Linked DNA regions of Homo sapiens. The protein of the gene in region 3 purifies or fractionates together with the protein of the main gene of each other region. This does not show direct contact. Each region holds a gene or a part of one and is shown on either strand. Other genes may lie near its edges. The genes, in order: ATP1A2, BHMT and ZNRF1.

Region 1 (3,649 bases), on a different chromosome or scaffold from region 3:
CACTTTTCTATCTGGCACTAATATGTATTTGTTTATTGTGTGTCACCTCTCCAGATCATAAGCTCCTCAAGGGCAGGGACTTTGTTGGTCTTGTCCATCTCTGCATCCGCAGAGTGACAATTGTGCCTGGCACTGGATATACATTTATTAAATGAATGAATGAATGAAAAAAAAAAAAAAAGAAACGGTCCCTGCTTTAAAGGAGCTCAAAGTCTAGTAGCAGAAAAAATGCAATCCTAGGATTCCAATGCAATATGGTGAGTGCAGCTCTAGAATCAAGTATAGAACACCATGGGGAACCAGAAAGAAGCATCTGAACCAGCCTGGGGCTGAGGGAATAGGGCCAGGCAAGGCTTTCTGTGGAAAGTGACAGGTGATTGCCAAAGTTGTGTGACACTGACGGTCAATAATGTAGGACTTGAGCAGGGTGTGGAGGTGCCCACCTGTAGTCTCAGCTACTTGGGAGGCTGAGGTGGAAGGATTGCTTTAGCCCAGGGTTCAAGGATGCAGTGAGCTATAATTGCACCACTGCGCTCCAGCCTGGGCAACATAGCAAGAATCCATCTCTTAAAAAAAAATCTAGGACTCTCCTAGAATCCTTGATAAAATAATCTGAAGGAAGAGAGATGGGGAAAAAACAGTTGAGGTGTCTTTCCAGGGAGCTTATCCAGACTGCCTCCAGGGGAGATGTTATGGCCCTAACCATAGGTGTTGTCTCAATCCAATATAATTAGGGGTCAAGCCCAGTCAAACCCTTCTCAGCCCTCAAGCCCTCCAAGTTGCATCACAAATGCCACCTCCTCCATGTGGTCTCTCCTGATGGTCCCCCACCCCTTCCAACCAGGTGGGACTTTCCTTCTGGGCATTCTTCCCATGCCCGGGAGCTGAAGGGATGGGCATGGTGACTGGCTGGGTTGGCTCCGGATGCGTGCCCCTACGCCTCTCCTTGCTCCCTCAGGGCCTCACCAACCAGCGGGCTCAGGACGTTCTGGCTCGAGATGGGCCCAACGCCCTCACACCACCTCCCACAACCCCTGAGTGGGTCAAGTTCTGCCGTCAGCTTTTCGGGGGGTTCTCCATCCTGCTGTGGATTGGGGCTATCCTCTGCTTCCTGGCCTACGGCATCCAGGCTGCCATGGAGGATGAACCATCCAACGACAATGTGAGCCCACACGCCCGACCCGGGAACAGCCCGTGACTGTCCTCCAACCCTGAACCCCCAACACAGTGGGGGGTGGGCAGGGAACAAGGCCCTCACATAACAGTCCTACAGATGCCCCTGCATCTTAGGCTGGAAAGGGGAGAGGCTTCTATATATATCTGTAAAGTACTCCTCCGCCAACAGTGCATACACATTCACATACTCATTAATTAATGAAACAATCTCTCCCTGTTCCTCCCCGCTTAAGTGAGCCTGTCTGTGTGCCTGGGTCTTCATCCCCTAGCAAAGTCCTAACCCTGGGAACTTCCTAAGACTTTCCCTCCCATTTCTAGTCTTAACAGGCTTGAGGTTGGCAGATCAAGGGGGAGGTTAGTGAGAAGGGCTTTCCCCTACCATCATCACTCTCAGTCACAGACAAAGGTCTGGGCTGTCATCTTGGATGGCACTGCCTGCTCATCCCAAGTGGCAGCTGCCCCTTTAGGGTTGGGGGGAAGGTCAGGTCCCTGAAACTCTTTCTCCTTACCAGCTATATCTGGGTGTGGTGCTGGCAGCTGTGGTCATTGTCACTGGCTGCTTCTCCTACTACCAGGAGGCCAAGAGCTCCAAGATCATGGATTCCTTCAAGAACATGGTACCTCAGGTAAGATGGCAGGGCTGGGCTCTGGGCTAGGCTGTAAGGTTTTGGCAAGAGTCCAGCTCATCTTTTGTCAGCTCCCAGGCTCTAAGATAGAGATGGACAGAAAAGATCCTCCAGCTTTCCATGCCAGCACCTAATTGTTTATGGGGCTTCTCCTTCTGCTTGACGGTGTGGGAGACCAGCAGGAGAAGAAGGCAGGGGCAGAGACAAGCATTTCATGAGCTGCCTGTGGCTCCCCACAGCAAGCCCTTGTGATCCGGGAGGGAGAGAAGATGCAGATCAACGCAGAGGAAGTGGTGGTGGGAGACCTGGTGGAGGTGAAGGGTGGAGACCGCGTCCCTGCTGACCTCCGGATCATCTCTTCTCATGGCTGTAAGGTGAGGAGGTCATACCAGAGCAAGCAGTTGAGTCTAAGGAGAAGGCTGTGTGCAGAGCTGAGAGGGGCCCAGTGAGGTTTAAAGGTGGAGAGACCCAGGTCCAAATGTCAACACCATGCCTATGCCCCTGCTAAACCTTCTCTCAGTGTGGGGTGCTTGTGCAGTGCCTCCTTGCATCTGTGTGTTATGAATGCTCTATGCCCCAGGTATTTCTTTGTTGTCCACTTTTTAGCAATCATGTATTGAATACCAATTATGTGTCAGCTGCTTTATATATGTTCGATGTGCTATCTGATGTAATTCTGAAAGAGTGGTGTAATCATGCAGGGCTGCTGAATGTGGCCACACACGTTGCATCCTGAATGACCCCAGGAGGTGCATTTTCATAACTACAGTGTTAGTGTCTCCCCCTGTGGTTGTGCAAGGCAGAGATTCTGTTTACATTCACCATTTTACAGTTGAGTACATGGAGGCTCTCTTGGTTAAGCAAGTAACCCGAGGTCACATAAGAAGTCAGGAGGAGTCAGAATTCCAAACCAGGGCAGGGGCAATAGATGAGTAATGCCATAAATATGTGATGAGGGCAAGTGTGACTTTGTTCCTCGTGTCATGAAGATTGAGTGTGGTTGGAGGTGGTTCAGGAGACAGCTGTGTGCATACAAGTGGCTCTGCCAGTCTGATGACTATGCACTCCTTCCTCCTCAGGTGGATAACTCATCCTTAACAGGAGAGTCGGAGCCCCAGACCCGCTCCCCCGAGTTCACCCATGAGAACCCCCTGGAGACCCGCAATATCTGTTTCTTCTCCACCAACTGTGTTGAAGGTGAGAAGCCAGGCTGCCCCCTGTAGGAAAGAGTCTGAATCCTGAATCCATAGTCAGGATGAAGGGCTCTGGTAGTACTTACCTGGCAAAAGCTCTGCCATTGGTGGGGCAATTGAGGGGTCAGGGGGCCCTGAATATTATGGAAACACCCTCCACAGAGCAGGGTATTGACTGAGGGCAGCCTGACTCCATGGGAAATGTATCTCCCTTCCCCAGGGAGATCTCTGTTCTGTCCACCCCAAGACTGAGTGGATTTCAAAGCTTTCAGGTATTGGGTTAAGAACCCCTTACGCATGCGCACACACAGATGCACATACGCTCAGAACCAACCTGGATTCTTAGGAGTCTTTGGATTTGATTGATGCTTCTATTCCTTGTGGTTCTGGGCCTCGCTGCCCCCTTCGATAACCTTTGCTTTGGCCAGGGCCCCAGGGTCTGGGAGGGCCAAGAAGGCATTCTGGCCAGGTGAACACTTGGGGCCTACTTCAGGCTGCTTCTAACCTTTGTTACATCAAAAGACATGTTTCACCATGCACAGACTACCCAGTTTGCCCCATCCCTGTTCTGGGTTCTAGAGATAAACAAAGGTCAATAAGAACTCCCAGAGCTGCCATCACTTAATGGCAGGGGTCCAAGCACAACTGAAACCT
Region 2 (3,649 bases), on a different chromosome or scaffold from region 3:
TTACCCAGTAGACTGTGAGTCTCTAATCCACGGCTTCTCATTTCTATATTCCTACTGCCCTTCCCAGTGCCTGACATACATTTTTTTTTACTAGTGTATTATTCATCTTCCCCATTGGAATGTAAACTCTGAGGGCAAAGACCTTGCCTGTCTTATTTGCCACCGTATTCCCAGCTCTGAAAATCATGCTTGATATAGAACAATCAGTATTAGCTATACTTAAGTGGTCCTTAACTCTTAAAAATCAATGCAATTTAAGAGTATTGTGCACCACACTAATGGTGCTTTACTAGAGCACAAAATCACATTTCATTGCCACTTACGTTTATTTACATGCTATATTCTTTTTTTTTTTTTTTTTTAAAACAGGGTCTCACTCTGTTGCCCAAACTGGAGTGCAGTGGCGTGATCTTGGCTCACTGCAACCTCTGCCTCCCGGGTTCAAGCAATTCTTGTGCCTCAGCCTCCCAAGTAGCTGTGATTACAGGCATGCACCACTATGCCCAGCTAATTTTTTTTTTTTTTGTATTTTTAGTAGAGATGGAGTTTTGCCATCTTGCCCATGCTGGTCTCAAACTCCCGAGATCAAGTAATCCTCCTACCTTGGCCTCCCAAAGTGCTGGGATTACAGGCGCGAGCCACCGCACCCAGCCTATATTTAAAAACAATTTTTAAAAAAATTTTTCTTTTTCTTTTCAAAATCCAAAATCAGGTCAAATACGTTCTATATTCTTAAAACAATCTCCAGAAATCACCTAATAAGGATGCTTTGTAAACATCTCTGGGAGAGAATTTGGGGATGACTGATTCTTCATCATCACACAACAAATTTGCTGCAGTCTTCTAAATGGCCTCACTTGAACATATTCATAATCTAAATTAGTTTGGGTTAGTAAAAAGATGCTTACCTTGCTCTAACCCAGGGTTTGGTGTGCATGTCCAAACCACTTCCCCAGCTGCCATGTTTTTCTGAAGCTGGTGGCAAAAAGCCCCTTTCTGGGGCCAGCTCCTCTGCAATTGCCCTGATGTGGTAGGGCTCAAATCCACAGCACCCGCCAATGTACCTGACCCCCAGGTTGTAGGCCTCTCTGGCGTATTTTTGAATATCCCATCTGGTGGCAACTCTGGGTTCCAGTCCTGTAATAAGTGGCATTATGCCATTAGGCATTATACATTCTTTTCATAAAAATTCAAGATAAGTAGCTACAAGTATGTAATTTTCAATAAATGAATTGTTTTCAATATTCAATTTTTACATTTAAGAAAAAACTTTGCTACTTTGTGTTGTATGTTCACTTTTACATGCTGTGGTATCCAGCCTTCAGGAGGTTCCAAATGACCCCTGCCCTTTGATGTTTTTCTTCTTGTGCAGTCCCCTCTTGCATTATAACAGGGCTGGTCTGTGAGATCCATAGAATATGGCAGAACTGGCATGTGACTTCAGAGTCTAGGCTATACAAAACATCATGGTTTCTGCCTTGCACTTTCTTGGAGCACTCACCCTGGGGAAAGCCAGCTGCCATGTTGCAAGCATCACATGTTTCAAGCATGTTTTCTAGCATCACAGTGAAAAGGCCCATGAGCTGAGGAACTGAGGCCCCCAGTCAACAGACAGCAAGAAACTGACACTAACTCCCAAAAACCAATTAAGTGAGCTAGGAAGTAGATCCCCCAGCTCCCAACAGGCCTTCAGGTGATAATAGCCCTGGCAAATATCCGGACTCCAACCTCTTAGGAGACCCTGAACCAAAACCACCTAGTTATGCTATCCCTGAATTCTTGACCTGGAGAAACTGTGAGATAAGAAGTGGTTTTTCAAGCCACTACATTTTGCATTAATTTAATGTGTTATACAGCAGTAAGTAACACAAATGCCTTGCCTTTCTTCCTCTGTGGCTCCTCCAGAGTGATTGTATTTTATAATATCTTACTTGTCTAAGGGTCCCTATAAAATATAGGATAGGGTGTAAAGACCTTAGAAGGAAATAGGAGGCTGGGCATGCTCTGCCCCTGCTGACCACTCTGGCTTAATTTGTGAGATCAACCCACCCGCTCTTCCCAATCATGCTGGGAAAGTTTTTCCTTCTGCCTGGACTGCAAGTATCCCCTCACTTCATCTGCTTGGTCTCTTCATTAAAACTTGTTATACAGTCACTCGATGATGGTATCTTGCCTGCAATCCCAAAACTCTGGAGTAGCTGAGCCATATTAAAAATTGGAGAAAAGGACCTTAGAGATAACTGGTCTGATCTTATTTTCCCAATAAAGAATTTGAGAGCTAGAGGAATTTAAAGATTTTCCTAAGGTGACAGGACTTAGCAACAGAGCTGGAACTAGAACTAAATATCTGTTGATTCTCCCATGAAGGGCATCCTCACCAACCCCAAAGTATGACTCACTAGTTGTCTGTTTAGATGCTGATTCACCTTAGATTTTATATTTAAATTCAGAGATCTTTTTTGCTAGCTGGGACCATCCTTTCCTTCTGCTCTTCTCTAATACGAAGGGGCTTTTGGCTGCAGGGACAGAAACCAGGGACAAGACATGAGGAGACACCAAGCCATCTCTTCACTATGACAAAAGATCTCTGGGTATAGATTTACTTGAGTTTATATGCATATCAAATGAAGATATTGAGATGATTCATCAAATGTTGGTCTTACCAAATGGGAATTCTGGGAGATCGATGAATCCCTGCTTGTTGCAGTCAGGAGTGTGGTAAGCCAAGGGCTGGCTCATCAGGTGAGCTTTCAGTCGGGCAGCCTCCAAGCCCTCCTTCATGAGCTTCACTGTTTTTAAACTAATGGTGGGGTCAAAGTGGCAGTTCACACCAATGATGGATGCTCCTGTGAGTGGGAAGAACATGATAGACTTAGGGATGCACCAGAAACCAGCAGGGCCAGCTCTCCTCTCTTCATCAGGAATCAGGAAGTTCTTTTTTCATTTTTTGAGACACAATCTCACTCTGTTGCCCAGGCTGGAGTGCAGTAGCGTGATCTCAGCTCACTGCAGTCTCCACCTCAAGTGATCAAGCAATCCTCCCACCTCAGCCTCCCAAGTTGCTGTGACTACAAGTGTGTGCCACCACGTCTGGCTAATTTTTGTTTGTTTGTTTGTTTTTTTATAGATATGGGGTTTCGCCATGTTGCCCAGGCTGGTCTCGAACTCCTGAGCTCAAGTGATCCAACAGCTTCCCAGACTGCTGGGATTACAGGCATGAGCCACCACACCCAGCAGGAAGCTTTTAATTGGAATGATGAACTGGAAGCATAGCATTAGGTCCTCATTCCCCACAAACCTCTTACCTTTGAGTGAGAATGATTACTAGCAGGCAGGAAGTGCTTTCTGTGAAAGTGCTTTGAAGAGTCTGGTATAATTGAAGTGTAATTTGTGCACATTTGGCTGTCCATCTCTTTTTTTTTTTTTTTTTTTCTGAGACACAGACTCTTGCTCTGTTGCCCAGGCTGGAGTGCAGTGGCACGATCTCAGCTCACCACAGCCTCTGCTTCCTGGGTTCAAGTGATTCTCCTGCCTCAGCCTCCTGAGTAGCTGGGACTATAGGCGCACACCACCACGACAGGCTAATTTTTGTGTTTTTAGTGGAGACAGGGTTTCACCATGTTGGCCAGGATGGTCTCCATCTCCTGAC
Region 3 (3,649 bases):
TTCCAAGAACTCACACCTCTGACTCTTAAGTCTTTTTTTAAATTAGAAAAGGTAACATGCAGCAGGTGAGGTTGGGATGATGACAAATCATGGGGAATACATTGGAGCTCCTGAGCTTTGGCCCACGGTCTGTGCTCTCTCTGAGCTGGAGCAGGCCCTGGGCGTGCCTGGGGATGCCCACTCCACATACACCCCCGGAAGCAAATGCTCTCCTCTTACCTGGAAGGTTTAGGGTCTTCAGAAAAGACAAAGACTGAACATGAGGAGTCCATACCACATGAACAGGGTCCACAGAGGGCCGGACCATTGTTTCTGAACAAAGCACTTCACCACGTTGAGACAAAGTCCACTGGAAGGACTGGAGACAACTGGCCTCTCTTTGCCTCCAGTGGTAAAGGACTGGCTTTTGCAAAAGAGAGCCTTAGGTGTAAAGCCTCTAGTTTACACACACACACACACACACACACACACACACACACACACGTGCACACATACAGAAACACATGCACCCTTGAGGAGGTGGCCTGCCCCTCAATTCCATGACAAGGGAAAAACTAGAACCAGAACCAGAGGAGCAGTGGTCATGCCTCAGGCTGGCTGGCCAATCTCCCCTTCCTCTAAGGGGGGCCCGGCTCCCGGTGTGGTTTCTGTAGTCTTGGGTGAGGCTGCCGGTGGTGGGGTGTAGGGGGGTAAACCAACAGCGCCAGGCACTCAAGTGCTGATACAGAGGGGGACAGGGGGACACATGGTGGCGTCCCAGGCAGTTCTCTGGCAGAGGAGCTGGACAGCCTCACCTTCCCGGTTCTCCACAGGGCAGTGGGGGTAACTCTGCATTTGGGCCATGGGGGCCCAAGAGCACTCTGTCCTCCACGGCTGCTCTTGCAAAGTTCTTCCTGAGAGCCAGGTTTTCTCAGGCTGAGCCCCTCTGAGGCTTCTTTGTATTCTTCCTACAACAAACGCAGTGTCTACAGAGAACGCCCTAGCAACCCACAGGACAAACGGAGGACTTCATGAGGTCTCCACACATGTGGGAAAGAAGTGAATAGGGTTTTTGAGGCCATGGCTAGGGAGGGCTGTGAGACGCAGGGAAGGCTCCTCTCCCTCCCTGGTCCCAAGCGGAGACGGCGAACAGGGACAAAGCTGAGCCTGAGCGTCCTGACAGCATGCATGCGACAGGACTGACGCGAAGCCTGCAGCACATGTGACAACAGACTTAGAGAACTGGCAGCAGTCAGCCCAGGAGAAAGGAGGCGTTGTCCCCTGGGGAGGAAAGGGGCTTCCCAGACCACAGCTATGATGCCCAGGGGAGGGCCGTGCGGGTCCTCCCACCTGAGCATGGCCTAACAAATGCATGGAGCTGAGCCACGTGGGTAATATGCCCACCTGCATCCAGAGTCTTTTGGCTGAACAAGTAATTAAGAGAGAAGTTTTCAGGAGACCTGAGTGGACGCCATTAGTCAGTTACTTCCCAGGAAATGCTCTGAGACCATGATCCCTCCTAGGCTCATGCTTTGTAGGGGAAAGAGCCCTCTGGGAGTGAGGAGGCTGCAGGGCAGAGAAGAGTCTCCCTAGGAAACATTCTCGCTGGGCTGGTTGCGTGATCCAGTCCTCAGATGCTCTCAGAAATCCCAGAACTCTTTTTCCAACCACTACTATGACTTGAATCTGGGAAGGTGGGCCAGTACCAGGGTTGGAGTGCACTCAGATCCACTGCCTGGTCTAGTGGAAGATGCCGTTTTCTGATGAACATGGTTTGGAGACCAGACTAAACACTAAGCATGGAAAATCGAGGGTCAGCAGTGGCGTGGGCTGAGCAGCACTGAGGAGAAGTCTGTGGGCTCTGGAAAACTGCAAAAAGAAACCTATGAAGGTCTCACATCTTTCATGGCAGCTGTAACTTCCCAAGCACTGACCATGTGCCAGGCTCTGTACCAAAGGCCTTTATGTGCCATCTCTTACCCAGTTCTGACAATCCTATGAACCAAGTATTGCTATCCACATTTTACAGAGCAGAAAACTGAGGCTCCGCTAAGCTGAGCAACTTGTATAAGATTGTAGACACAGAGTGGTAGAGGGAGATTTGAACTCCCATCACCTGGACTCCAAAGCCTTATGCACAGCATGCTAGGCAGATGTTGACAGTCATTTTGTTTCCCAGAGGCGTCCTGTTAGGTTAGCTTGGGTGTTTTGAAATCCCCTGCCCTCAGGGTCCTACCCTCTGCGGTATTCACTGTTCGGCTCTGAGGCAGCCTCCAAGGTAGGAGGCAACATGGCCAGGGTGGAGCAGCAAGGTGTCCTATCCGCATTTTCAATCCCCAGAGCGTCTCTATGTCACACATAGTCCCCCGTCAAGCTCTCTGGTGTGGACTCATAGGACTAAATCAGGTGTTCGTCCGAGTTCGAACGTGACAAGGAGACGACCAGCTTCCCAGCACTCTATGCATGCCACCAGCACACAGCCCCCACCTCCCCAAGGAGGGCGGGTGCTTGCTCTGGGCCCCTCTGCTAAGCCGTGGAGGACACCTGGCTGTCTTGGGGCCTTCCACAGTCAAGGGTGAAGGAAAGGCTGCATCTCCCAGCCAAAGTCCTCAGAACTGAGTTGCAGAGAGGCAGGGGCCTAACTGAGCAGCCCGAGAGCCTTCCCAGACCTCGGACCTGACCCCTGGGCCTTCCTTCCTTGTCCCACTCCTCTTCCTCTCTGACCTGAGCAGCAAGGCTCCCAGAACAGTCCACTTCCTCACCACCACTGAGGCACACCTGCCAGAGGGCAGGGTGAAAATACTGCCCAGAACCACCCTCGACTGGAGGCTCCCACAAGGACTGGCCGGCTCCCCCGACGGATGCTCTGGAGGCTGGTGAGGCAGGCCAAGCCCTTACCGTTGTAGGAGAGGCGAGGTTTGCTCAAACACATTATAAAGTGCATTTCCATCTCGTCAGAAGCCACAGACTTGGAGCAAATGGGGCACTTGAAACCTGAAAGAGAGGAGAATGGGATGAAATGTTTTCTCCAGATCCAGTACATCCACAGTACATGTGGACACTCTCGAATGACAGCCATGTGGGCTCAGGGTCAATGTGGAGGATGACCATCAGAACAGACCCTGGACCTGTCCTCCTTCAAGGACTCATTTGAGCATCTGCCTTTTTTTTTTTTTTTTTTGAGACGAAGTCTCACTCTGTCGCCCAGGCTGGAGTGCAGTGGCACGATCTCAGTTCACTGCAACCTCTGCATCCCGGGTTCAAGCGATTCTCCTGCCTCAGCCTTCCAAGTAGCTGGGATTACAGGTGTCTGCCATGACGCCTGGCTAATTTTTGTATTTTTAGTAGAGAGGGGGTTTCACTATGGTGGCCAGGCTAGTCTTGAACTCCTGACATCAGGTGATTCACCCGCCTCGGCCTCCCAAAGTTCTGAGATTACAGGCATGAGCCACCGCGCCCGGTGGCATTTGCCTTTTATTGCAGCCTTTGACTGACTGCCAGCTTTCACTAGGGCTCACCCTGCCTTATGTGCCTCGTTAAGGTTTAACCAAGGTCACTGACACCTGACTTGAGTTTTATCTTCTTTAGACCCTTTCTCAGATGGGTCTGGTGGACAATGGGGTAGGGAGGCATCAAACCAAGGCACCTGGAAACAGCCTTTGCATAACAG

What was found.
Region 1: the proteins of ZNRF1 (region 3) and ATP1A2 purify together in Homo sapiens (affinity purification with western blotting; one study listed by BioGRID). This does not show direct contact.
Region 2: the proteins of ZNRF1 (region 3) and BHMT purify together in Homo sapiens (affinity purification with mass spectrometry, with the first as the bait; one large-scale study listed by BioGRID). This does not show direct contact.

The regions. Positions count from the first base shown.
Region 1 is NC_000001.11:160,122,255-160,125,903, forward strand, and holds part of ATP1A2 (sodium/potassium-transporting ATPase subunit alpha-2 precursor), read left to right. Parts: intron 1-958; coding exon 959-1,162; intron 1,163-1,688; coding exon 1,689-1,802; intron 1,803-2,041; coding exon 2,042-2,176; intron 2,177-2,881; coding exon 2,882-2,999; intron 3,000-3,649. UniProt on the Homo sapiens protein: This is the catalytic component of the active enzyme, which catalyzes the hydrolysis of ATP coupled with the exchange of sodium and potassium ions across the plasma membrane.
Region 2 is NC_000005.10:79,125,243-79,128,891, reverse strand, and holds part of BHMT (betaine--homocysteine S-methyltransferase 1), read right to left. Parts: intron 2,847-3,649; coding exon 2,664-2,846; intron 1,138-2,663; coding exon 909-1,137; intron 1-908.
Region 3 is NC_000016.10:75,092,896-75,096,544, reverse strand, and holds part of ZNRF1 (E3 ubiquitin-protein ligase ZNRF1), read right to left. Parts: intron 2,974-3,649; coding exon 2,878-2,973; intron 1-2,877. UniProt on the Homo sapiens protein: E3 ubiquitin-protein ligase that plays a role in different processes including cell differentiation, receptor recycling or regulation of inflammation. Mediates the ubiquitination of AKT1 and GLUL, thereby playing a role in neuron cells differentiation.